Linked DNA regions of Homo sapiens: all the other regions are reported to be linked to region 4. Evidence: microRNA targets listed by miRTarBase, many of them from high-throughput screens and not tested one by one. Region 4 holds a microRNA gene; each other region holds the end of a gene's coding sequence.
What was found. Region 4 holds the annotated microRNA hsa-miR-513c-5p (UUCUCAAGGAGGUGUCGUUUAU, at 1,997-2,018, shown strand). A microRNA usually pairs through its seed, bases 2 to 8, with sites in the 3' UTR of a target mRNA and lowers its output. Matches are read on the target gene's strand: a 7mer-m8 pairs with bases 2 to 8, a 7mer-A1 pairs with bases 2 to 7 and ends in A, and an 8mer does both.

Region 1: miRTarBase lists GSS as a target of hsa-miR-513c-5p. Seed matches in the 3' UTR shown: 7mer-m8 at 919-925.
Region 2: miRTarBase lists HOXB5 as a target of hsa-miR-513c-5p. Seed matches in the 3' UTR shown: 7mer-A1 at 2,613-2,619.
Region 3: the mRNA of SGTB is a reported target of hsa-miR-513c-5p. Seed matches in the 3' UTR shown: 7mer-A1 at 806-812, 7mer-A1 at 848-854 and 7mer-m8 at 1,921-1,927.
Region 5: the mRNA of PGAP3 is a reported target of hsa-miR-513c-5p. Seed matches in the 3' UTR shown: 7mer-m8 at 3,581-3,587.

What each region holds. Positions count from the first base shown.
Region 1 is chr20:34,925,425-34,929,553 of GRCh38, reverse strand. It overlaps GSS (glutathione synthetase), which reads left to right. Exons shown (of 13, transcript NM_000178.4): 12 at 1-153; 13 at 603-1,122. The coding sequence ends at 726. It overlaps ACSS2 (acyl-CoA synthetase short chain family member 2), which reads right to left. Exons shown (of 18, transcript NM_018677.4): 15 at 3,788-3,856; 16 at 3,273-3,449; 17 at 2,603-2,677; 18 at 1,595-2,467. The coding sequence ends at 2,340. Among named protein-coding and RNA genes, the nearest start is that of GSS, 28 kb to the left of the region's middle.
Region 2 is chr17:48,588,991-48,592,990 of GRCh38, forward strand. HOXB5 (homeobox B5) reads right to left here. Exons shown (of 2, transcript NM_002147.4): 2 at 2,267-3,466. The coding sequence ends at 3,219. It overlaps HOXB3 (homeobox B3), which reads right to left and starts at 1,251. Exons shown (of 5, transcript NM_001384749.1): 1 at 1,135-1,251. HOXB-AS3 (HOXB cluster antisense RNA 3) reads left to right here and starts at 1,430. Exons shown (of 3, transcript NR_033201.2): 1 at 1,430-1,599.
Region 3 is chr5:65,666,530-65,670,662 of GRCh38, reverse strand. It overlaps SGTB (small glutamine rich tetratricopeptide repeat co-chaperone beta), which reads left to right. Exons shown (of 11, transcript NM_019072.3): 11 at 306-4,133. The coding sequence ends at 417. Among named protein-coding and RNA genes, the nearest start is that of TRAPPC13, 44 kb to the right of the region's middle.
Region 4 is chrX:147,187,625-147,191,770 of GRCh38, reverse strand. MIR513C (microRNA 513c) reads left to right here and starts at 1,984; the gene lies at 1,984-2,067. All of the region lies in intron 1 of LOC105373347 (periphilin-1), which reads right to left.
Region 5 is chr17:39,669,145-39,673,290 of GRCh38, forward strand. It overlaps PGAP3 (post-GPI attachment to proteins phospholipase 3), which reads right to left. Exons shown (of 8, transcript NM_033419.5): 7 at 3,907-4,111; 8 at 1,978-3,722. The coding sequence ends at 3,659. PNMT (phenylethanolamine N-methyltransferase) reads left to right here. Exons shown (of 3, transcript NM_002686.4): 2 at 485-692; 3 at 807-1,331. The coding sequence ends at 1,245. Among named protein-coding and RNA genes, the nearest start is that of PNMT, 2.8 kb to the left of the region's middle.

The DNA of each region.
Region 1 (4,129 bases), not on the chromosome of region 4:
GAAACAGCTGAAGGACAGTGAGGAGAGGGCCTCCTACATCCTCATGGAGAAGATCGAACCTGAGCCTTTTGAGAATTGCCTGCTACGGCCTGGCAGCCCTGCCCGAGTGGTCCAGTGCATTTCAGAGCTGGGCATCTTTGGGGTCTATGTCAGGTGAGCCAATCAGGAGAAGCTCTTTCCACTACCTGCTTGCAAGAGTGCCAGCCAAGTGAGCCAGCCTAGAGGGGAACACTGGAAAGAGTCAGGAATCCTGGGCTTCGGTGCCAGCTCTGCCAATCACTAGCTTTATTACCTGTTTCTTTATCTATTAAATGAGGCCAAGGACCCAAGACCTGCCCACCTTACCAGGGTATCAGATGAAGCCCTGATGAGAAGTCCTTTGCAACCGTGAAGGAAACTCCAAATAGCACCAAGAGGACTCAGAACACATGGTTTGACAACCTAGGACTAGAAGGAGACTCCAGAGAGGCATAGAGACTCTAAAATCCTAGCACTTTCTTGGTATAGACAGTTACCCAGGTACTGCTCAGCTGGGTCCAGGGAAGGTCCTGGGTTTGGGGCTGAGTCCAGGTGATGTGTGTCCCCTGCCTCCATTTCTATAGGCAGGAAAAGACACTCGTGATGAACAAGCACGTGGGGCATCTACTTCGAACCAAAGCCATCGAGCATGCAGATGGTGGTGTGGCAGCGGGAGTGGCAGTCCTGGACAACCCATACCCTGTGTGAGGGCACAACCAGGCCACGGGACCTTCTATCCTCTGTATTTGTCATTCCTCTCCTAGCCCTCCTGAGGGGTATCCTCCTAAAGACCTCCAAAGTTTTTATGGAAGGGTAAATACTGGTACCTTCCCCCAGCTTTCCATCTGAGGACCAGAAAAGTTGTGTCTCCCTTAGATGAGATCTAGACGCCCCCAAATCCTTGAGATGTGGGTATAGCTCAGGGTAAGCTGCTCTGAGGTAAAGGTCCATGAACCCTGCCCCACTCCTGTCAGCCCCTCATCAGCCTTTTCAGCAGGTTCCAGTGCCTGACTTGGGATAGGACTGAGTGGTAGGAGGAGGGGGAGTGGAGGGGCATAGCCTTTCCCTAATTCTGCCTTAAATAAAACTGCATTGCTGATTCAGTGATGATTCCTTACTTCGTGCATAGAGGGGAGGCGGGAGCTGTAATCTACGTTAGCCCACTTAAGATGTATTAGAGCAGGGAAGTGACTGGTCTGTAATCAGGGTCCCCCTAGACCAGTCTCTACAGGTGGAACCCTGAAGTTTCAATCCTTAGCCACCCACTAATGCTCTTACTGGATCACAGGGAGGAATGAGAGTCCCTGGCAGGAGCCCAGGAGGGAAGGCAACCAAGATGGGACATACATAACAGTTGTGAACTGGCTTCAGTCACTTTCCTGCTTAGCTCAGGGGCTTGTCAAAGGCCCTGTCAGTGAAGCCTCCTTCGCTCTGCCCAAACCAAAAGTTCTAGAAGGAAGATATTGGGGATAGTCCTAGGAAATACCCCTCCCTTCCCATCTGCCACACAAATCAGAGCCACTAATGAATATACAGCCTCAGGGCACAGATACCTAAGAAAACAAGTCACCACTTCTTGAGATCACAGGCTTTATTCCTACAACCACAGGGCTTGAGCCTGACTGGGGCAAGAAAACAGAGTTTCATCTGAGAATGTCTCTTATGGGCTGGGTTCTGTTCAGGGGAGGGTGGGAACAGAGGACAAGGAAGACAAGCTCCTCTGGCCCTAGGAACAAAACACATTTACTCCTTCAAAGAAGCAGATGATCTGAATACCCTCTGGAGACTGAATCTGCCCATACAGCCCCTGGAGCCAATGGGCAGACAGTACTGGCATCTGGCACAAAAGGGAATTCAGACCCAGAACAGAAGCAGCAAAATATTTTAAAAATAGTAAATTGTTCCTGGACTCACAAATCATTGTTTTTAAGGGCAAGTGCATGCCCAATATAAGTACTGGGGCTTCCTAAGAGAGCTGACATAGGATTACACAGCTGCCTCCCTGCTTCAGTGGAGGCCCTCACATCCCCTTTGAACACTTAACTTGGGTAGGAGAGGTAGCCTTTTCGTCTCTGTTCTGGGTTCTGAGAGCTCTGCAGTCTGGAGGCACAGCAGACTGAGGCTGACCTGGGCCCTGTCCTTTCTGCCTGGCAGTCACAGGATGTTGTCTCTACCTGGAGACAAAGCTGGTTTCCGGTCCCAGACAGCTGGTCAAGGGAGGGTAGTGTGGGTCAACACTGGCCCTCAGCACTCCTGAGGGGGCAAAGAGGATGGGCAAAGTTTGGAGCAGGAGGAATCCTAGGTAAAGGTCAGGATCATGTTCACTGGATGGTCAGGCAGCGGTGGCTGAAGAGGTGACTGATGACAGATGGGTCAGCCACAGTAGACATGTCCCCGAGGTCATGGTCATTCTGAGCAATCTTCCGAAGCACTCGCCTCATGATTTTCCCTGGGGAACCACAGACCTCTAGTTACTTGGTGAAAGCACTGACCCACCCTAGCCCTGCCAAAGGCTTTCATCCACGCACACCCCACCACCACCAGGCCTCAGCCCATCCCAATCCATGGAGGCCTCTGAACATACCTGAGCGGGTTTTAGGCAAGCCAGGTGCATTCTGGATGTAGTCTGGTGTGGCAATGGGGCCAATCTTTTCTCTAACTGTAACCAACAAATCATCAAGCATTTCTTCAGCACCCTTAGCCAGACTTTTCAAAAATCAAAGTAGAGATGGCTTTGTTCCCCACCTGTTTCCTCCTCAAGTCCCTGCCCACAGAGACAGCCTCAGGTTCACTGCTTCTCTTGCTCTCAACACACTTGTCTCTTTACTCTCTCATTTTATCTTATGGAACTCAGGCTGTAGAATGAGCCTGCTAGAGTTTAAATGCCACCTTTCTAGCAGTGTGGCCTTGGGCAAGTGATTTAACTTCCATGAGTCTCAGTTTCATCATCTTTAGCATGAAGGTAACAATAAGATCTGTTTCATGGAGGTGACTCTAGGGATTAAGTGGGGTAATTCATTTAAAGCACTTAGCCTAGCGGTGGCACAAAGTATTCTAGAAATGTTGGCTATTATTATTATCCTAGTGGGAGACTAGTGGAGACTGAACAGGAAGAGGGCAATCAGCCCATGGGGCCCCCTGGAATCTGTTTGTGGTTTGGGGAGCAGCTTGCTCTAGCCCCTCCCCAACAACTTGCAGTGATAACTGGGCCTCCAAGACAGACCCTATAGTCCCTGCCCAGGGAGGCTCCTTACTCTGCTTCTTGAGCTCCTCGGTGAGCTTGGGGCTGAAGGTGTGGCCATCACACAAGGTGACAAAGCAGTAGAGGCATTCACCCTTCACAGGATGAGGGTGGCCCACCACAGCTGCCTCTGCAACAGCCTCATGTTCCACAAGTGCTGACTCCACCTCTGCTGTACTCAGCAGGTGTCCTTGTCAAGGGAAAGGAAGTGCCATGAGAGAGATCCCAGGCTCTGCCCCAGCCCATGCTCCATCTGTACCCATGGGGCAGTCCTGGTCTGGCCAAATGGAGAAGACCCTTCATTCACTCCTCAGATGACATGCTTTCAGTCACCCCACCATCCAAGTTCCCCTACTCTAGGCACATTCCAGTGTTCATTACTCCTCTAAAACCTGGGCCCAGAACTGAATGCTACACTTAGTACATGGTCTGGCCAAAGGACACTCCTGGGCTCTTGCGGAAGGCTTCGGCTGGGTGTTGTCAGAGGAGCAGAGTTAATAAGATGGGAAGGTGGCCCCTGGCCCTCACCAGATACATTGAGCATGTCATCAATCCTGCCAGTGATCCAGTAATAGCCATCCTGGTCCCGCTGGCAGCCTGGGAAGAAATGCAAAACCTAATAAATAAAAACCCTACGGTAGGATACCTGATCCACATTACCAAACTGCTACACCTTCTGCAATAGCCTTCTAACAAGTCTTCCTGCTTCCACTCTTGCCCACTGTAGTAGCCAGCCTCCAAGAGGGCACCACTGATCTCTGCCTCTTGGTATTCATAGCCCTGCAGTCCTCTTTCTCATTGTACTAGGGTTAGTCTGTGTCATCATAGGATTTGGCAGAAGTGATAGGATGTCACTTCTGAGATTAGGTT
Region 2 (4,000 bases), not on the chromosome of region 4:
TGGTGAAAGTAGGAGTGACAGGGTAGTTAGCCCCACGGGTGTTAAATTGGAGGGGGGTCAATTTGGTGGGGAAGAAGCCTCTGACTTTTAGAAGGGTGACTTTTCCCTAGAAAATAACAGAACCCCTGGGGATCAAATCCTGAAGTCTCTCTGGTTTATGGTTCTACAAAACAAAGGGGACTTTGAGGGTGTGCCCAGAAAAGAAGAGGGAAAAAGAGAGGAAAAAAGAGCACCTTTCCTATTTTCTCTTCCAGCTCCTGAATCTATTTCCTCCCGACAGTTGAGGGATTTGTATTCTTGAGCTGATTTTATTTGAGGAGGGCTTGCCAGAGTTCTACTTAAACACCTAACACCTCTAGGCAAGAGAAGAAGCTCTTCCCTTCCCCCACTCCTGGTTCAGGAATTAGGTTTTGAATTGGGGGAATTGCCCTCTCTGTCTGCTCCCTAGTCTGACTTCAGGATCCTACTTCGAGCCAAGGAGAAAGATTAGCTTGAGACCAACAGGCTGAAGGTGGAGGCAAAAGCAGCGCTGTGCTCCCCATCCCAGAGAAGCCTGATGAAGCCAAAGATAACCGGAGGGACCTCTTTTTATGGGCTTCAAAGATCGGAAAGCCAGAGATCACCCCAGGGCAAGGTAGCCCACAGCAGCCGCCTACCCGGTGCTTTTTCTCAGCTCAGATGTATCCAGATAAAAGTGCCCAGCGGTGCACCCCCACACACCTCCGACAAATGAATGTCATAAAGTTTCTTTCCGGAGGATGGGGGGATAGTTGTCTGAAGATATCCAGCAGTGAAGTGGCCCCCACCAATGGCCCCTTCTTTCAGCAATATACACCCCTCCTTCCTGGTCCCTAAATTTCCGCTGGCACTGAGGGAGCATGGATCCCCCACACAAACCCTTTTCCCCACAAAGTCAGACACTCCTGTTGGTAAAAATCAGGCACCCCCGACCGATGAGGCCTTAAGAAACTGAGAGCACTCATTTCAGGCACCCAGTCCCTTAGAACTGGGTGCATAAAACAGGCTAAATTTCCCCTACATCACCCCACAGCCCCAGGTGGAAACAAGTTTTCTTCCCCCAGTCCCAGGCCCCAGAATTGCAAGGGGTAAAAGCGAAAGCTGAAAGCGACTTACTGCGGGAATGCTGGCCTGGGCCGCCGCTGCCTTCTGGGCTGGTCCGGCTGCTCCAGGCTGGGAGAGTGCTCACCTACCTCTGCCCCCTTCCCCACCACAGCGAGCAGTTAAAGTGTCACTTAACATTCTGGAGAATGTGAAATATACTGCGCGGTGTCAACTCCCCAAAACCATAAAACTAACTTTATGGACCTCACGTGACTTTCTCGAGCCAGTGAGGGGTATCTGTCTGACTTCTCGGCGATTTTTACGATCTAACTTCGAGATAAAACCCCTATCCATTTGACATCTAAATGTCATAGCGACTTTTGGGATAGTTTGCTATCGACAAAGGGAGACAAAGTCAAGGGGTGAAGGGAAAGGAGGGCCAAGTAGAGCCTCCACGACCCTCGGCTTCCTCCTCACCAGCTCCCCCTCCCTCCAAGTCCAGTAAGAAGTTGGGCCAAGCTGGAAGGGATTGACCGGGTAAGTGTCCAGACTTGACTCTTGTGCTCAGGGTGGAGGCTGACTTGGATGGAGGTAGACTGGGCCCTAGCCCTGGGCCAGGCTGAAAGGGAACCAGGGGTCTTTCTGAAAGGACCCTAACTCCTAATCAAGAGGGAAGATCAGTTGGGCCCTTGGAGAGAAGGAGCCCTTGATAAGGGTAGGGAAGGCTGAGGGTGAGAGAAATCCTTTGAAATCCAGCTGAATTTTTTTTTTTTTTTTTTTTGCTTTAGTTGGTGGCAGAGCTGAATTGGGACTTGGAGTAGGAGACAGGGGGCTGGGCAGGCCTCTACCACTCCCAAAAGGCCAGGAGCCTCCTGCTGAGGACTTAGGCCCAAATTACTTTCCCAGAAGAGTTTTCCAGAGGCTTCCTTGGCCAGCTAGTGGAAGACCAGGATGAAGTCTAGCTCAGCCTTTCCTCTGCCCCAGCCCCACATGGGGTTTCTGGGCCTTGGAGTCCCCCAGGCATGAAGGTCTGTTCCCTGGCCCAAGCACTGTTGACCAAGCCAGTGACTTACATGGCTGAGAAGAGTTGTTGGGGAGCAGCCTACTTTTTCTTCCCTGCACCCCAGATCTATTGAGAATGGTGCAGGGTGTGCCCGGGATGGGAGAGGCAGACCCCTCGGAGAAAAGACAAGTGGAAGGGCAATGGAGTGGGGGAAACATTTATTTGACTTCCAGGAAAGCTACAAACAAATACCAAAAGCGAATCACTGAGACAGGCCCCGCAAAGACAGATTTCACACGTAGCACAGCATCCACTCGCTCACTACAAATGGTCTTGGAAGCAAGATGGGTAAGGGAGAGATGGGTCTGACCCAGACTATCCCCATATTTACAAGCTTTGGGCCCTCTAGCCAGACCCATGGATTCACAGAGAAATACACAAGACATTTTGCACTGAGGATCATTTTTGTTTCCGTATACTCCCAGACCAGGCCTTGTGGGGCCTACCCAGGCAGCAGGAACTTAAATCTCACTATCTTCTTTCTCTCTTCTCAATACCATCCCTTTGGTCCTCCCTAGCCCCTTCCCACCCTAGGACCAAGCCCCTAGGAGACTTGGGCCTAGGGAGTGAGGAGGGAGGAGGAGGAGAATGAAAAGGGACTCCATCTCCGAAGCCAGCTCAGCTTGACCCCACTGCGGCACTACCCCACCTCAACTGCTGCCCCTTACAGAAGTTTCCAGCTGAAACTCAAAATACAGCGATCATCTTTTTATAAATAAGTTAGAACACAGATGGGGAGGGGAGAGTTCACATTAAACATGCGAATTTCTTTTTTTTTTTTTCCTGGGGGAAAGACTGCAACCACAGACACAAACATTCAGAAACACTGGCGGATTTGGGACAAGCAGAAGGGAGTTGGGAGCATGGAAGGAAAATAATAATAATAATTATTATTAACAATAATAACAAGATAACCAGTCCAGGAGAGAGGGAGCCACAGGAAGACCTAAGACCAAACGAAATATCGTAACACAAGGCGAGGCAGGCTTGTGGGAACCGGTCCCCAGCGGGCGGCGGCAGAGCGGGGAGGATTGGAGGGGCCAGGGCTGGGGGTGGCACGGGCTCTTGGGCCGCTGGGCTCCTCTGGGCGGGCTCAGGGCTGGAAGGCGCTGCCAGCTGTAGCCAGGCTCATACTTTTCAATTTGTTGTCCTTCTTCCACTTCATGCGCCGGTTCTGGAACCAGATCTTGATCTGGCGCTCGGACAGGCAGAGTGCGTGGGCGATCTCGATGCGCCGTCGCCGGGTCAGGTAGCGGTTGAAGTGGAACTCCTTTTCCAGCTCCAGGGTCTGGTAGCGGGTATACGCGGTCCGGGCCCTTTTCCCGTCCGGCCCGGTCATATCTGGAGCAGATAGAGGAAAGCCGCAAGGCAACATTATTCCGGTTAAGGGAGGGGGCACTGGGTGGGAGGGGGCGGGGGAGCAGGACCCAGGCGTCCCGGCACCCAGCTCACCACAGCTCCAATCCTCTCTACTCCAGATGCCCACATTCAAGCTCGATTTCTGCACCCCTTTCTACTGCATCCCCCACTTCTGCAGGCAGCCAGTGCGCCCGGCTTTGTCTCTTGCTCGCTCCTAGTGCCTCACCCTTGGCTGGGCTCAGGCGGCCGCTCGCCCCGGGAGGGAGGAGAGCGGTTGCACTTTTGCCCCGGAAAGCTCCTTTTACTGTTCACCCCTTCTTTGCTAGCGACAGTCTCAAAATTTCAGGGGTAAGCAGGACCCTTCCCCACATTATATGAACCCCATCCTTTATCCTAAAGCTGGTTCAGCTGCGCTAATAAAAACCTAAGCCGAAGCTGGAAACAAATTATTAAAAATACCCCCCTCTTAACAGAGAGACCCTTTTTGGCTCTGTCTACGAAGCTATGAGGCCCCTC
Region 3 (4,133 bases), not on the chromosome of region 4:
CAATAAAAACATATACGTCTTACCCTTTGCTTCTTTGTCATTAGCACTAGAGAAGTAGATTTCACCCAGTTGAGGTACTTATTTTTTTTAGCATGGGTGTTTTGTTTCTTATAAAGAACACTGCATTGTAATAATGCTATATGGAGGCATTGGTAAACTTGTAGATTCTAAAGTCATGGCTCTGAAACTTGTTTTTATAGAAAAAAGCCCCCTTTAGGTAGCTCCTACATTTTCTGCATTTCTTTTTGCGTGGGTAAATGTGACTGGCAATTCCCTATTCAAACCACATTGCCTCTTTACTACAGGGGACAGCAGTTTGCTCAGCAGATACAGCAACAAAATCCTGAACTTATAGAGCAACTGAGAAATCACATCCGGAGCAGATCATTCAGCAGCAGCGCTGAAGAGCATTCCTGATTTAACCAGGGGCTCAAGCCCAAGATACAAATGGTTTATGGCTATGAATGAAGTATTTGTTGTAGATAGTACCCCCTCCCTCCTTCAAAAAACCAAACACCATATCTGATGTGTGAAAATAATGGAGGAAAACCTCTTGTGTATATTCTTAAAGAATAAATCTGTTTAGACAATAGGTTTATCACAAACAAACTCAAAACATAACATGACTCCTTTTGAAATGATCACTAGCCATGTTACGTGCCAATATAGCACTGGGATAAGGTTCCATTTTCAAACTTCTATCATATTTGTATATTAGACTTAATAGCAAAGCATATTTATTGAACTCTAGTAGGGCTATTTGTTGGTAAGCTCTTTAGCTCCAATTTCCCTTAAGCAAAGTTTTTTGAGAAGGGAAATGACCCAAAGGAAAGGTTTCCTATGCTGGTTGAGAAGAAGTGTACTTGCCACTGAGCAGTATGTCAGGAAAGAAGGAATATTATCTAGGTTTAGCTTTGATAAGTGCTATTAGTAATGAATATATAACATGGGAACCAATGTTATCTTTAATGTTGCTTGTTCTGGTGAACAGAGAATCTTAAGAGCTGTTAGAAAGTAGCACTTGATGCAAGGGATGTTTTGAAAAGAAAAAATTGGTAATGCGAATGTATAGAAAGTAAAGGTAGGATGCTCAGGTTTTCTGCATAGTTCTTAACTAATCTTGTCTGCAGTTTGGTATTGATAATATTAGCATGGCCACTTATGCTAAATACACAATAAGATACATTTAGAAATCCTTAATGTACTGGTTAGGTCAGTGGTACAACTGTTTGACTTAATTATCACAATTTCCCCAATGGTAACCTTACCTTGGAAACTATCAAATATAAATATACTTTAACTAAGCCAGTGACCTGGTCCTAAGTTAAGGATTTTCTAAATGGTATTTAATTGTGTGCCCATAAACACTGATTTTTTTTAAAAAGAAAACTTAGTAATTATTTGATGGATAACAAAAAGCATCTATCACTAACATTGCTTGTTCATGTAATCTTCTGTGATAATTTGGCTTGGCATGCCAGTCTTATAATTAACATAATTTAAATTTGATGCAATTTAAATATAACAGGAGACTTAAAATATTTTATTATAAATTAGATGCCATATTAGTTAGTGGAGAAAAGGGGCATTAGGTATTAATTGCATGGGTCTAACTACATTGATGATGAGAGTTTAATTCCAACTAGAGTATATTTTTTGTTTATTAATAATGAAATTGGTGCTGACATGTAATGACTTCACAAGTTTTACGAGGGAAAACTGAAAAAGGAAGTAATATAAATTTTGTGGGGTTTTTTTGAGATGGAGTCTTACTCTTTTGCCAGGCTAGAGTGGTGTTGCAATGTCAGCTCACTGCAACCTCCACCTCCTGGATTCAAGTGATTCTCGAGCCTTAAGCTCCCAAGTAGCTGGGATTACGGGCGCCCACCACCACGCCCAGCTAATTTTTTTTTTTTTTTTCTTGAGATGGAGTCTCTCTCTGTCGCCAGGCTGGAGTGCAGTGGCGCAATCGCGGCTCACTGCAACCTCTGCCTCCCGGGTTCAAGTGATTCTCCTGCCTCAGCCTCCTGAGTAGCTGGGATTACAGGCACGTGTCACCATGCCCAGCTAATTTTTGTATTTTTAGTAGAGACGGGGTTTCACCATGTTTGCCAGGATTGTCTCAATCTCTTGACCTCGTGATCCGCCTGCCTTGGCCTCCCAAATGCTGGGATTACAGGCGTGAGCCACCGTGCCTGGCCGCTAATTTTTGTTTTTAATGGAGAGAGTTCCACCGTATCGGCCAGGCTGGTCTCGAACTCCTGACCTCAAGTGATCTGCCCATCTTGGCCCCTCAAAGTGCTGGGATTAGAGGTGTGAGCCACTGTGCCTGGCCAGGAAGTAATATACAATTAAATGAGTAATAATGCAGATGATTAGGCCTTATAGAACCCTTATCAAAAGACTAATTGGCCGGGCGCTGTGGCTCATGCCTGTAATCCCAGCACTTTGGGAGGCCAAGGCAGGGGGGATCACCTGAGGTCAGGAGTTTGAGACCAGCCTGGCCAACATGGTGAAACCCACCTCTACTGAAAATACAAAAATTAGCCTGGCTTGGTGGCGGGCACCCGTAGTCCCAGCTACTTGGGAGGCTGAAGCATGAGAATTGCTCGAACCTGAGAGGCAGAGGTTGCAGTGAGCCAAGATTGCGCCACTGCACTCCAGCCTGGGTGACAGAGCAAGACTCCATTTCAAAAAAAAAAAAAAAAAGAAAAAGAGACTAAGAGACTAATTATTTTGTATCTTGAAGTTTAAAATCCAACTTTTCTCTTTCTCCTTTGTGACATTAGAACAGTAGTTCTATAACTTCATTGTAAGAATCACCTGGATAATTCATTAAAGATGCAGATTCAGGGCCACGTGTTCAATTCTGATACAGTAGGTCCTGTAATAAGGCCTAGGAATGGCCATTTTTAAACAGTACACTAGGTGGTTTTGATACAGATCCAAGGACTCTAATTTAGAGGAACACTAGGTTAGAGGTTTCTCAGACCTGCAAACACCTAAGCACCTGGGCCAAACAAAGCTACAACGAAGATCTGTATGAAGATATATAGTTCTGCAGAATTTAAAAAGAGCACAATTTAAGTCTTCGGCCCTCAGAAGTTAAATTCATATTCCATCTAAGCCAACTTTGATTTTCATTAAGTTAGAATGAACTCCTAGTATTCCAGTATTACACAGAACGAAGTACTACTACTAACACATAGAAGTCATTACTGTGATATAAAAAGCAAAATAGATCCTTAATTAAAAATTAGTCACTCATATTCAGTGTTGAATAAGAAGTTAAAGTTTCTAGCATAACTATCTTGAGTGCATTAAAAATGCTTTTAGAGCAATAAGATAAGCTTCTAGCTGACTGCCTAGAAAAACAGAAGATACAAATTCAGTGTCAGAAATGAAAGGGAATACACTACAGACACTATAGTTATTAAAAGGCTAACTAGAAAACACCATGACCAACTCAAGGATTGTATATTTAACAACTTAGATGAAACAGATTCCCTATAGGATACAAACTAGAAAGCTCACTGTAGAAACAGATAACCTAAACAGAACCATATTTATTAAGGAAATTGAGTTTGTGGTTAAGTTAAAAACCTTCCAGTAAAGAAAACTACAGGCCCAGATAACTTCCGTGATGAATTTTACCAAACACTTAAGGGAGAAATAATATCAATTCTAAACAATCTCTTCCAGGAAACAGAAGAGGAGGAAATACTTCCCAACTCATTTTATTTGACCAGTATTACCCAGACAAAGATACTATAAGAAAAAAAACTTTAAAACAATGTCTTCATGTGCTAACATCTGTAGTTAAATTAGCCATTCTTTTTACATGAAATAATGGGAATTGGTATATTTCTTCCATTTCATTTTTCTATTTCTTTGCTAATATACCACCTGTAACAAATTCAATCTAGATGCTATCTGTCCACTTGCCTACATTTCCATTCTATTCAAGCCATTTTTGCTCTTCAAGTACCTTGATCACTTTGGAATCATAGCATTGCAAGCTATTTCAAAAAAAGTTGCGTGGTTGGATTGTGCTAGCTACTTTTAAATTTATAAAAAATGCCCCATATATTTTCTTGCTTGTCTGGGAAATATAGTTGCTATCTAACTAGAAA
Region 4 (4,146 bases):
ACCATGGAGCTAAGAGAAATAGAATAGCATTTCCTGTCTTCCAGCCCATTATCTGTCTCGTCTCTCTCTCGTATTAATTTCTATGGATTCTTCCCCCTGCATAGCCTGAAGAAGAAATTAAATTTCTGCTCTCTCTAACCTAGTTTTCTCTGACTCTTCTGCACTTCTCTGCATCCAGGTGGTTGTATTCTGTGGTTTTTCTGTTGGAATTTAGGTCTGTGCAGCACAGCTGGAGTTTTAGGACAACAGAAAGCTTTAGTGAGTGGTTGGTCCTTTGTACTTAACTGTAATTTTAAGGGTTTTTTGTTTTTGTTTTTTTGAGACAGGGTCTCGCTCTGTAACCCAGGCTAGAGTACATTGGCACCATCTCTGCTCACTGCAACCTCTGCCTTCCTGGTTCAAGTGATTCTCCTGCCTCAGCTTAGAGTAGCTGTGATTACAGGTGCAAGCCACTACACCTGGCTACTTTTGTATTTCTAGTAGAGATGGTGTTTTACCATGTTTGTTTGACCATGTTGGTCAGGATTGTCTCAAACTTCTGGCTTCAAGTGATCTCCCCACCTGGGCCACCCTAAGAGCTGGGAATTCAGGCATGAGCCACCATGCCCGGCTGAGTCTGAAGATTTTTTTGAGACAGATTTTCACTCTTGTTGCCCAGGCTGGAGTGCAAAGGTGCAACCTTGGCTCACTACAACCTTTGCCTCTTGGGTTCAAGTGATTCTTCTGCCTCAGCCTCCAGAGTAGCTGGGATTACCGGCGCCCACCACTACGCCGGGCTAATCTTTTGTATTTGTAGTAGAGATGGGAGTTTTCCCACGTTGTCCAGGATGGTCTCGAACTCCTAACCTCAGATGATCTGCCCACCTTGGCCTCCCAAATTGCTGGGATTACAGGAGTGAGCCACCGAGCCTAGCCTGACTTTGAGGATTTTTTTTTTTTTATTACACTTTAAGTTTTAGGGTACATGTGCACATTGTGCAGGTTAGTTACATATGTATACATGTGCCATGCTGGTGCGCTGCACCCACTAACTCGTCATCTAGCATTAGGTATATCTCCCAATGCTATCCCTCCCCCCTCCCCCCACCCCACCACGGTCCCCAGAGTGTGATATTCCCCTTCCTGTGTCCATGTGATCTCATTGTTCAATTCCCACCTATGAGTGAGAATATGCAGTGTTTGGTTTTTTGTTCTTGCGATAGTTTACTGAGAATGATTTCCAATTTCATCCATGTCCCTACAAAGGACATGAACTCATCATTTTTTATGGCTGCATAGTATTCCATGGTGTATATGTGCCACATTTTCTTAATCCAGTCTATCATTGTTGGACATTTGGGTTGGTTTCAACCATTGTGGAAGTCAGTGTGGCGATTCCTCAGGGATCTAGAACTAGAAATACCATTTGACCCAGCCATCCCATTACTGGGTATATAACCCAAATGACTATAAATCATGCTGCTATAAAGACACATGCACACGTATGTTTATTGCGGCATTATTCACAATAGCAAAGACTTTGAGGATTTTTAATGAGACAAGCAAAATTACAGGAAAACCAATGGGATAATTCAGACAAGGATAACTCACCTCTGAAAAAGAGGAGAAGTGAAAAGCTCTATCATTGCTCAGCCTAAAAATCGGCGTGTTAATTAGCTGTTCATGGTGGTGCACAGCTTTAATCCCAGCTACTCAGGAGGCTGAGGCAGAATCACCTGAACCCGGGAGGCGGAGGTTGCAGTGAGCCAAGATCACGCCAATGCATGCCAGTCTGGGCCAGATTCCGTCTCAAAACAAAACAAAAATCTGCATGTTAATATCTCACTCAGGGCAGGGTGAAAAGGGGAGTGCTAGGGGCTAGAAGTTGCATTGTTACTTGGCATAAATCTTGGTGGCCATGCGAAGGCATACACCTATAGGGACTTGAATAAAAACGGCATGAATAGGGAACATTTGGTCTGGGATGCCACATTCAGCCATTCAGCGTACAGTGCCTTTCTCAAGGAGGTGTCGTTTATGTGAACTAAAATATAAATTTCACCTTTCTGAGAAGAGTAATGTACAGCATGCACTGCATATGTGGTGTCCCTAGGGATGGGGCTGTAGCTGCGAGCATGGTGATGCCTGTTTTGCATCCTGTGCACCCACTCCTCAGTGCTGGGCTACTTCAAGGAACTTTTTGTGCCTTCTAGACGACTACACATAAGAACTGTGGACTCCTGAGAAAACGCATGCACTTTGGTTCCTTAAGAATTTATCTACTTTTGCCAAATGAGGCTTGGCTCAAATAAGAAATACGTTGTATAGAGGCCACAGCCATTCTTCGTCAGCTGAGACATTTTACTCCAGATTCCTCAATTCTCTAAACTCTTTTCACTGATCAACTAGTCATCATTTGCAAGGATTGTCCTTTAGTGCTCCCAAAAGGCTCTCCTGCCTCTCAGGTCCCTTCATTGCTGATCCACAGTGTCCATTTTCTGTCAAAGACTAAAACATTTTCTCATTGACTGTTAAAATACCTTTCAAAGCCTTCAGTCACCAATTTATGAAGGGTTAAGCATAGTCCACCCAAGAATATTTCACCCTTTTTAATTATCTTTTTTCCCCATTTTTTAAGAGTATATTTGAAGAATGGAAGGGTATGACAGAATTGATACTCAAGAGATATCTCCTAGGCTTCTCTCCCCATTTTCTTTTGGTGACGCTTAACTCTTAACCTAATGGAGAGAAATAGAGGGAAATAAACACACACACACACACACACACACACACACACACACACACACAGAGAGAGAGAGAGAGAGAGAGAGAGGAGAGAGAGAGAGAGAGAACATGCAAGAGAAAGACAAGCACCAGACTATGTAAGGCCATCTGCAGCATTAATCTAGTATACATGTTTGGGAAGTAGGTTATAAATAAGCTATTTATATTGTGGAAATGTGTAAAAAATGTTATAAATAGTAAGTGATTAATACAATTTTGATTCCAACTGAAACAGAGGCTACAGCATAAACACCGAAAGGGAAAAACTATAAAAAACAATTACTATATGGTTACAGGCAGGATTTTGGTTTATGTTTTTTTAGATTCAGAATGTATGAATATGTATAAGACCATTAATGTCTGAAAGTAAAAAAAACAGTTGAAGTATCTTTTCCATAATGAAAAACATTGTAATAATAGAATACATACAATCTTTTTGGGGTGGGGGCAACATTCTGAACAGTAAAAAAATTTTGTCACTTTGCAATACTGTATGTACATAGAATTTTCCAAAGTGATAACTGTTTTTAGTATATAATTTCTAAAACTGTATTATAGTGATGCATGTTTACTTATATAACTTTAAGTGATATCTTAAAATGAAATAAAAGAGAATTTAGTTGTTATCATACCTCTGTTATGATTTCTCAAAAGAATAGTATATTTACTGGTATTTGTGTTTTTTTTCAGTGAAATACTGTTTTGTATTACTCAGCCTTTTTTCTTCCAATTTATTAAGGTTTAACTGACATAAAAATCATATTTAAGGTGTACAACATGACGTTTTGATATATGTGTACATTATGCAATGATTAAATCAAGCTAATTGAAAAATAAAATATGAACATAAAATATTTATTTGAAACTCTAAGAAAAAATTACAAGATCTCTGTGGTAGGCAGAGTAACAGCCCCCGCCCAAACAATGTTCACAATGTAACCCCTGAACTCGTAAGCATCATATTTTATTGTAGAAGAAAATTTGTAGATGTTATTAAATATTTTGAGATTGGGATTATCCTAGATTATCTAGGTGAGCCCAACATTATCACAAGGGCCCTTATACGTTGGAGAAAGGTGGTTAGAATGAGAAACATTGCAAAATACTATAGTATTGACTAGAGGTAGAGGTAAAGGCCATGAGCCAAAGAATGGAGAAAGTAACTAGAATCTTCTAAAGACAATCAAGTAGATTCTCCTCTAGAGCCAACAGAAGGAACAAAGCCCTGCCAATGCCTTCATTTTAGCCAAGAGAAACCTAATTTAGATTTTTGACCTTTAGACTCTAATATAATAAATTTGTGTTGTTGTAAACAACTAAATCTGTGGCAATTTATTACAGTATCAATAGAAACCCCAAAACATCTGTATGCTAAAACTGTAA
Region 5 (4,146 bases), not on the chromosome of region 4:
ATCTCGGCTCACTGCAACCTCCGCCTCCCCGGTTCAAGCGATTCTCTTGCCTCAGCTTCCCTAGTAGCTGGGATTACAGGCATGCGCCCCCATGCCTGGCTAATTTATTTGTATTTTTAGTAGAGACGGGACTTCTCCATGTTGGTCAGGCTGGTCTCGAACTCCCAACCTTAGGATCCACCCACCCCGGCCTCCCAAAGTGCTGGGATTACAGGTGTGAGCCACTGCGCCCGGCCAGTAGGTATAGTCTTCTAGATGTGAAACCTGAGTCTCAGAGCGGTGAAGTTCCCTTCCGAAGGGCAGCCCATGTTGGAGCTGGGTTCAGTCTAACTCTGGGGCCAATGCTTTTTCCAGATGGAGACACATTTGCAGAGGAGAAGGAAGAACTAGAGAGAGGCAGGGAGATGCAGGGGAGGGAAGGGTAAGGAGGCAGGGGCTGCCTGGGCTGGCTGGCACCAGGACCCTCTTCCTCTGCCCTGCCCAGGTGAAGTGTCCGGACGCACCCTCATCGACATTGGTTCAGGCCCCACCGTGTACCAGCTGCTCAGTGCCTGCAGCCACTTTGAGGACATCACCATGACAGATTTCCTGGAGGTCAACCGCCAGGAGCTGGGGCGCTGGCTGCAGGAGGAGCCGGGGGCCTTCAACTGGAGCATGTACAGCCAACATGCCTGCCTCATTGAGGGCAAGGGGTAAGGACTGGGGGGTGAGGGTTGGGGAGGAGGCTTCCCATAGAGTGGCTGGTTGGGGCAACAGAGGCCTGAGCGTAGAACAGCCTTGAGCCCTGCCTTGTGCCTCCTGCACAGGGAATGCTGGCAGGATAAGGAGCGCCAGCTGCGAGCCAGGGTGAAACGGGTCCTGCCCATCGACGTGCACCAGCCCCAGCCCCTGGGTGCTGGGAGCCCAGCTCCCCTGCCTGCTGACGCCCTGGTCTCTGCCTTCTGCTTGGAGGCTGTGAGCCCAGATCTTGCCAGCTTTCAGCGGGCCCTGGACCACATCACCACGCTGCTGAGGCCTGGGGGGCACCTCCTCCTCATCGGGGCCCTGGAGGAGTCGTGGTACCTGGCTGGGGAGGCCAGGCTGACGGTGGTGCCAGTGTCTGAGGAGGAGGTGAGGGAGGCCCTGGTGCGTAGTGGCTACAAGGTCCGGGACCTCCGCACCTATATCATGCCTGCCCACCTTCAGACAGGCGTAGATGATGTCAAGGGCGTCTTCTTCGCCTGGGCTCAGAAGGTTGGGCTGTGAGGGCTGTACCTGGTGCCCTGTGGCCCCCACCCACCTGGATTCCCTGTTCTTTGAAGTGGCACCTAATAAAGAAATAATACCCTGCCGCTGCGGTCAGTGCTGTGTGTGGCTCTCCTGGGAAGCAGCAAGGGCCCAGAGATCTGAGTGTCCGGGTAGGGGAGACATTCACCCTAGGCTTTTTTTCCAGAAGCTTCCTTGAGGCTAGCATTCTGTACCACTCATTCTTCCCAAACTAAGGAAGGCCAAGGTCAGGGGAGCTCACCGGGCACCTGCAGTGCACCAGGCACTTGTGATATGCCATTGTGTCCATCGCATCATTCATTCCTGCATTCAGCAGCAGGTCCTGCTAGTCTGTTTCCAGGTGAAGCTCAGAGAGGTGAAGTCACAAACAGTGCAGACTGCTTCAGACCAGAACGAGGGAGAGTGGGGATCATGAGGAGATGGAAGTAGAATCTGCAAGGTGGTGGGGAGGTGGGGGTGTTATGATTGAAGCACAATGGCCGAGGGAAGTGAAAGGGAAAGAACTGGCTCCAGCTCCCTCTCACAACTGGACTTGAGTTCTGCCCAGCTCTGCCTCTGGGGCCTGCCATTCCCCATGCCACGTGCCCAGGCAGAGACCTCACCTCTGTTTACTGCCTCCAGCCAGCTCTGGGACCTGCCCCTGCCGCCACAACTGTCTTCTCCTGCCCTCCAGCCCACCCTATTCACACAAATGAGCTGAACAAGGGCAGGTGAGGCTTGGAATTGATTTATTAAGCACATCCCTTGCCACCCTCCCACCTTAAAAGTTTTCAGTATCAAAAGAAGCTAGCGCAGGCCACCCGAGTCCCTGAGGTTGGAGTCCTAGCATAGCTCCCCTCCCTCAAAGAGGGACAAGGGGTCAGGGGCAGAGCAAAAATCCAGTCTGCTTCAACCACGGAGACTGCCTTTGGGATGGAAAGTTTCTGGAGCTCCCTCCATTCTATTCCTGTGGGGCAGGAACATGCCAGGGCTGCTGGTAAATGGCAGGGGTCACCTTTACCAGGGCGCAGGCATAGTGTGGCCCCTGCCTGCCCTGGGGCCACCCTGGAACAGTAAGACCCTCTGGGAAGGGAAGAAACCAGACCCAGCCATAAGCTTTCTCCCCTTCTCCCTCAAATCGCCCCTTCCTCCTCCCCAAAATCAGGCTATGGCAAAGGGGCTGGCAGCAGGGGAATGGAGGTTTTGGAGGGGAAGGCCAGCCATGCGAAGGCAAGGAGAAAAGGAGGATGGAGAGAGCCCCAGCCATCCCCATTTTCCTTCCTCTGCCTCCGAGGGGCTGCTTCTGGAGGGCACTGTTGTGTGGGGACCCTGTGAGGTTTGCAGGAGGCGGGCAAAGGGGCACCAGACAGGGAACATGCACACAGGCAGCCTGGCCATGGAGAGCTCCTGGCTGTCCGCCCAGGTGGCGCCTTGGGCAGAGCTGGCGCTCCACAAGTGATTATTGATGGTGACAGGATTCCCTCATCCTGCTCCAACCTCTCAACTGTGGACACATTCACCGGCAGTCACTCATCTCACATGCCCACCAGCACGCGCACACACGTTCCCCTAACCCACGCTAACACACCCACCCCCTGCACACACACACTTTGAAGCCACACCTCTTCCCCGACAACACCCGTCTCCACACTGCGCACCTAGGCCTGAGCTCACACACACCCAGGCCCATGCTCACGGCCCTGTCACCTATGCACTCAGCCTGGCCCACACTCCCGACACACGGTGGCAGGCTCTCAACCAGACAGCAGCACAGGATCCTTGCCCTGGGCTTGCTGGAGCCCTGGCCCTGAAAGGGAGTATGGTGAGGCCTCCTGGGAACCTGGCTAGGGCAATGGTCAGGGTGAAACTCCTTCCCAATCCCAGCAGCTTGGTCCCTCAAGATCCCATGGGGAGAATCGCCGTGAACCTTGGCTGGCCAAAGAACAAGCATCCAGCACCACCTAGTGGTGTCCTGGAGGAGGGTGGGGGGTGGTAACAGAAGGGGACCCCCTGTATCCCTAAGGCCTGTGGTCCCTGGTCTCCCAGGTAGACAGAGGGCTTCAGGACCCAGCCAGGCAGCTGGGGATGTGGGGAGGAGGCTGATGGGGAGGAAACAGGCAGCTGTCCTCCCGGTAGAGCTAAGAGCACACTCAGTTCCACCCCAGTTCAGCTCCAGGAGGTAGAGGGGCTGCCCACTCTCGAGTCCCAGATGCTGGGAGGCCTTCCCTAGAACAGACTCCAAGGCTGGTGAGGGCCAACAGGGGGTGGGCTGGCCACATGATTCTGGGCCCACATCCTTCATGTCCAAGTTCAAGAAGTTGAAAAGAGAAAATCATCTCAAGGGTTGAGGGGAGAAGGGAGGCCAGCAGGGCGGGGGCAGGATCCCCACTGGGGCAGACTCGCTCCAAGGTCTTCAGTCCAGCTTGAACTTGTCCTCTGATTCCTTCAGCAGGTACAGGCTGTCATCTTCCAGAAAGCTGTGGGCCAAAGGAGTAGCCCATTGAGGCACACAGCTCTGACAGCTCGCATGGAGACAAGGGTGGGGTGCATGCAGGCAAGGTGGGAGGGGGCGGATGGGCACACAGAGCCCCCAATCTCCCCTAAGGAGTGGGCAAGGAAGGGTCCAAAGAAGGTGAGCACCAGGCAGGGGGCAGCACCCACCTGAAAAAGAGGACGTGGACAGGGATGGTGCTGATGTGCCAGATGGCATGGGCATCCAGGACCCAGAAGAGCGGTGGGAAGTCAAGCAGCTCGAGCAGGGACAGCCCCTGCAGCAGCAAGACCACCACCACGCACTTGCGCACGTGAGGCAGCCGCCGCTGGTTCCACAGGCACCAGGCCAGCCACCACACCACGTTGACCAGGCCTGGGTGCCAGTGGGGGCAGGAGAGACTCATTCCT